Regions from separate parts of the Homo sapiens genome. Here region 1 is linked to region 2. The links come from fine-mapping of genetic effects on gene expression. Tissue or cell type: whole blood. Region 2 holds a variant in brackets; the other region holds the start of a gene. Each region is shown on its reference strand, or each on the opposite one.

Evidence for each region. PIP is the estimated chance that this variant, and not a neighbour inherited with it, causes the effect.
Region 1: it holds the start of SEPTIN4, and the variant in region 2 is the best candidate, but not a certain one, in a credible set for the expression of SEPTIN4 in whole blood (TOPMed, PIP 0.60).

The regions. Positions count from the first base shown.
Region 1 is chr17:58,542,669-58,545,581 of GRCh38, forward strand. SEPTIN4 (septin 4) reads right to left here and starts at 1,660. Exons shown (of 14, transcript NM_001368771.2): 1 at 1-1,660. The coding sequence starts at 1,518. It overlaps SEPTIN4-AS1 (SEPTIN4 antisense RNA 1), which reads left to right. Exons shown (of 5, transcript NR_110810.1): 3 at 789-930; 4 at 1,868-2,003.
Region 2 is chr12:54,327,954-54,330,866 of GRCh38, forward strand. All of the region lies in intron 1 of COPZ1 (coat protein complex I subunit zeta 1), which reads left to right. Among named protein-coding and RNA genes, the nearest start is that of COPZ1, 4.3 kb to the left of the region's middle. RefSeq lists enhancers at 1,238-1,928, 1,929-2,618. The variant G/A (reference allele first, on the strand shown) is at 1,291.

The DNA of each region.
Region 1 (2,913 bases), not on the chromosome of region 2:
GTGCTTGGGGGTCTGTGGCACTTCACTCAGTGGTGCCCAACTTGGAAACTCCTTTGGTGGTGATGGTGGTGATAGGCTTGCCTTCTCTCTCTGGAACTTCAGATCCTCACAGAAAGGGCTAGAGTCTATTTTAAAACCGGACAATAAAAGATCTAGGGAAGGAGAGCACTTAGGCTCAAAATCCGGTGTTGTCAGCTGGCTTTGGGGTGTTTCAACTTCAGGATTCAGCAAGGGCCACCATGAGGAGTCAGGTCCGTACCTAGGTAAGGACCGAGGAGGCAAGGGCCTAGGGGTCAGTTCCAGTTCTGCATGGATGGAGGGCTTTTGCGAGAGTTCTGGATACCTGGGTGTAGGTCCTTGGGACATGTAAGTAATTTCTGGGGGTTTTTGGGTTTGCTGTTTATAGATGGGCTCTGGAGTAACAAACATGGATGACTTGTGGGAGCCCTCAGACACTGATGGAACTGTCACATGGTGAGTTGGCTCTACTGACTGTACCCCTGGGGAGATGGTGACCCTGCGGCCAACCTCGCTGTTTCCTCGGATTGGGGTCCTCACGTTGGACTCCACCTGTGATGATACTAAGACCTTTGCGGAGGGCTTGGTTTCAGGATAGGCAGAATACTTATGAAGAGACTCAGGGTCTACCCGTGCAGAAACTCGGTGTACACCATCAGAATCTTTAAGGACAGAGAGTTTGAGCAATGAGTCCAAGTTCATATTCCTATACAAGGCCTTGGGTTTTGAAGGAATTGGACCGTAAGGACCTGTTTCTGATTCTTCTACAGGGACCCTTCTCTGGGCTGTCTGATAGTCTGCAGAGACACAGCTGCTTCCGTGCTCTAGGAGAGAGGGACTCCTTGGAGATCTGATCTCACTAGTAGTCGTAATTCTTTGGATGGGCTCAGTTTGTACTGCTTCATCCTTTGGGTAAGACAAAATCCTACGGGGAACTCTGACTCCTTGGGGGTTCTGGACCTTGGATGGTGGGTCATCTTCTAAGATTTGTGATTGTAAGTTATTCTTCTGGTCTTGAAAACTCAACTGATGAGTAGATTTGGCATCTGGGATTGATGAAGCATGATGGCCGACCTCGCGCCCTGACTTGCTCTCACTGCCTCTTCGTGCTGCTTCCTCTCTGGGTGGACTAACTTTCCATTGTCTGCTTGAAGCATGGGAAGCCAGTGTCTGAGTCTTCTGGCTCTTTAGATGGGGAGAGGAATGGCGGGATGATTCTGTTCTTGGTCCAGTCTCGGGTCCCCGAGGAGTGGGTACTGCATAGTGTCCAGGTCCTGACTGGAGGGAGACAGATCGAGGGTAGTCTGATGCTGAATGGGGAGTGGTGGGATGTGCAGCTTCTGATCTTCGGTGGGAAGGGTTCAGGGAGACTGCAGCACTTCGATGGCTTGAGGCAAGAACGTACCCATGTCCCTGCTGAGGGGATGTGTTAGTAGTAACCTCAGACCCTCTCTGTGCTGAAACCGCTACCTTGGCCCCAGGTTTATTTGTCTTGACCATCTGATAGATTGTGCCCTTCTGAGTAGATCCCGTATTTTACTGGCTGGCTTGTATTCAGGATCCTAATGATGCCTGAATATTTACCCTGTTTTAAAGCTGCTGTTTCTTGGGCTCCCACAAAAGTGGCTGTTGTTCTAAGAGTGTCTCAAATAATCCCCTTAGCTACCTCTCTGTCTGGTGATGTCATAAAGGAAGGAGCTTCCTTCCTATTAAACATCCTAGTGTACAGCCACAATTCTTCACAGAATCCCAAAGAAGTACCTGAAAGGAATCTGTGGATTTGTCTTTGGAGTTATATCACCAAGCCTTTGGCAAGTTTTTAACAAAACTGGGATTTCCTTGTACATAGAGAAGGCTCCAGACCCTCCTTTACTCTCCCGAGATTCTAGAAATTCTCAGGACTCATCCAGAGAAGGAATCAGCCAGAAGATCCTATGAAGACAAGATCAAACCAAACACGCTGTGTTCGCCCCAGTTTTAATAAGGTACGAAGTACAAAGTTGCCCCAATTTTGTTTGAAACTGTACTGTATACAAGTTAAAAAAAAAAAAAAAAAGAGAGCTTCAGCTTTTTCCAGGTCTCATGGATTGTTTCATTGCTCCTGGGGTAAAAATCCAGGTTGCTCAAATAATAAAATTCTCACATTCTTGCTCCAGGAGAGTTTAGTGTTTTATTAATAAAAGGGATTTGCCATGTGCGGTGGCTCACGCCTGTAATCCCAGCACTTTGGGAGACCGAGGCGGGTGGATTGCCTGAGGTCAGGAGTTTGAGGCCAGCATGGCCAGCATGATAAAACCCCGTCTTTACTAAAAATACAAAAAAATTAGCCAGGCATAGTGGCAGGCACCTATAATCCCAGCTACTCAGGAGGCTGAGGCAGGAGAATCGCTTGAACCCGGGAGTTGGAGGTTGCAGTGAGCTGAGATTGTGCCACTTTACTCCAGCCTGGGTGACAAGAGCAAAACTCCATCTCAAAAAATATATATAAATAAAAACAAAATAAAAGGGATTTGGGCTGGGTGCAGTGGCTCACACCTGTAATCCCAGCACTTTGGGAGGCTGAGGCGGGTGGATCACCTGAGGTCAGGAGTTTGAGACCAGCCTGGCCAACATGGTGAAACCCCATCTCTACTAAAAATACAAATATTAGCCAGGCGTGGTGGTGCGTGCCTGTAATCCCAGCTACCCGTGAGGCTGAGGCACGAGAATCGCTGGAACCTGGGAGGCGGAGGCTGCAGTGAGCTGAGATCGTGCCACTGCACTCCAGGCTGGGTGACAGAGCAAGACTCCATCTCAAAAAAAAAAAAAAAAAAGAAAGAAAGAAAGAAAGAAGGAATTTGGAGTTAATCATTGGTTTCCATCATAAATGACTACAGGTGTACCTAGGAGAAATTA
Region 2 (2,913 bases):
TAAGCTGGGGGAGTTATATGTGAAAGTATCTCTGTCGGGCGCAGTGCAGTGGCTCATGCCTGTAATCCTAGCACTTTGGGAGGCTGAGGTGGGCGGATCACTTGAGGTCAGGAGTTCGAAACCAGCCTGGCCAACATGGTGAAACCATGTCTCTACTAAAAATACAAAAAAAAATAGCTGGGCGTGGTGGCACGAGCCTATAGTCCCAACTACTCAGGAGGCTGAGGCAGGAGAATCACTTGAGCCAGGGAGGCAGAGGTTGCAGTGAGCCGAGATCGCGCCACTGCACTCCAGCCCAGGCGACAGTGTTAGACTCCATCTCAAAAAAAAAAAAAAGGCCGGGCACGGTGGCTCACGCCTGTAAATCCAGCACTTTGGGAGGCCGAGGTGGGCGGATCACGAGGTCAGGAGTTGGAGACCAGCCTGACCAACATGGTGAAACCCGGTCTCTGCTAAAAATACAAAACTTAGCTGGGCGTGGCCACGCCTGTAATCCCAGCTACTCAGGAAGCTGAGGCAAGAGAATCACTTGAACCTGGGAGGCAGAGGTCGCGGTGAGCCGAGATGCGCCACTGCACTCCAGCCTGGGTGACAGAGCAAGGCTCTGTCTCAGAAAAGTTAAAGAAAAAGAAAGTCTCTCTGTCACATTTCTCTTCCCTTAGTTCTCTGTCTCTGCTTCTTCAGTGAAGTCTGTTTCAGCCTGCTTCTTCCTTATTCTTTTGCTTTAATCTATGCCTAATAGGCTGCATTCACAGATCCCTGCTAACTTGATCAGGTAACCCTGGACTTTGCTTTTAAAACCACACTGGTTCTTTGTTATGGGAAACCTATGTAATGCGGTTAGGGACAATCTGATCAAAGCATATTCTTCTGTCCTTAACTCTACAAGGTACATACATAGCTGCAGGATGTCGAGAAAAAGGGACAGGTAAGCTACAGGGGGTCAAGAAGAACTGTTGATCAAAGTTTGCATTGATTGTGGAATTTCTAAATAACAGTAAGTTCCCTTCTTTTAGGTACTTTACAGTGGGTCACATGGTCACATTTCTTTCTTGAATTAAGTAATCCAGCTCTAGCTTTCAAGCAGATTTGTCTAATCTCTCTCAGGTCTCCTTAGGCTCTAAGGAAAGAGACCCTTTCATCTCTTTTAGTTCCCAATGCTTAATAATAGTGATCTCAGCCTGCATCTTTGGACTTGGCTTCTTCTCTCTTGCTGTATCTGCTGGTTCTCGCTTTTTGAGTTGTGAATGAAGAGGATCTCTGCAGATCACCATTCTCCATTAATAACCT[G/A]TGGAATCTTAAAGATAAGGATTTCCCCTTCCTCCTTCCTGCTTTACTTTTTTTCTTTAAAGCTGAATTACTCGGGCCGGGCTCGGTGGCTCACACCTGTAATCCTGAGGTGAGTGGATCACCTGAGGTCAGGAGTTCAAGACCAGCCTGACCAACATGGTGAAACCCGTCTCTGCTAAAAATACAAAAATTAGCTGGGCGTGGTGGCATGCGCTTGTAATCCCCAGCTACACGGGAGACTGAGGCAGGAGAATCGCTTGAACCTGGGAGGCGGAGGTTGCAGTGAGCCGAGGGCCATTGCACTCCAGCCTGGGCAAAAAGTGAAACTCTGTCTTAAAAAACAAACAAAACTGAATTCTGTATCGGTTTAGATCTTTAAATCTTTGTTCATAGGTTTTATTTTTCCTAATCCTCTCTGGATTCACTTTCAGAGTGCTTCTCCAGTGCTTTACAGACTAGACTTCTAATTCTGTACTTTGTCTTACCTTAATATTTTAAAACCATAACCAAATCCTAAATTCTAAGCCTCATTAAAAAATCAGGCCATCCAAAGTGCACAAGGATATGAGTATGTATGGAGGAGGAAACTATGCAGAATATGTCAATGACTTTAAAGGTTGATGTTGCTCCTTGGCCTTTGCTTCCTGAATCATCTTAATGGGGCTTTTGTTAAATTCCTTTGGCCCTAACAGTAGAGGTACTTGGCCTAAATGCCCCCCTCCCCCTGCTCTGGGCAAAGGTATCAATTACATTAAGCCCCTAAAGCACTCCCATCTCGTTCCTGGCAGTCCCCTGTGCCCCTCTCCCAGCTGCGTCCTTGCTGGTGCCTGGCCCCCTCCATTTTGTTAGGAGAAGCAATCTCCTCATTCCTGCGCTGTGGAGATATATTTCTCAGCTAGGGCGCGAGCAGTGCCAGCACTGCCCCCGGTGAGGTCCCTGGCAGCAATAAAAATTTTTATTGTGATTATGTTGGTGTCGGGGTGTCCATCTGGGTTATTGCACACCTAGTTTAATTGATTGAAGTTTAATTTATTGACACTTCAAATTAAATGATCAGAATAAACTGTGCTGTTACTCTGGCCAGCTTGTTTTAATGGTTGATTGCTGGAAGCAGACCTCGGCTTGAACTAAAACCCCCAAAGAGCAATTGACGCTGCTTCTAACTCTCCCCATGTCTTGCCCTCCAAGAAGACCTTGTTATAGATTTCCGACGTATTTATATATATTTTTTCCCTCTTCTTCACAGTGGTGGGAAAGAGTTGGTCCCTGGCAAGGTATAAATTATATCAAAGATCTAGGGGAGCTGTCACATGGTCAGAAGAGGAGGAGGGGGCCTCCATGTGAGGAAAACCAGACCCTTGAGAAGCCAGGTCTGCCTTGGGAGGCAGAGGATGAGTGCAATTATCCAGGTATTTGACGGAGCCTAGTGGCAGGTTTAGGGTCTTTTTTATCTAGATACTTGCTGCTGTTTCTTACTTTACTCCATTGACATGGCTTGATTAGAGTCTGGATGTTGACAAGAAAACAGGTTGTGGAAAGGGAAACTAGAGGAGCAAATCAGATGGAGCAGGGATAAAGAATCAGTACCTATGTACCCACTTGTGCTGGAGTAATTAGGAAGAG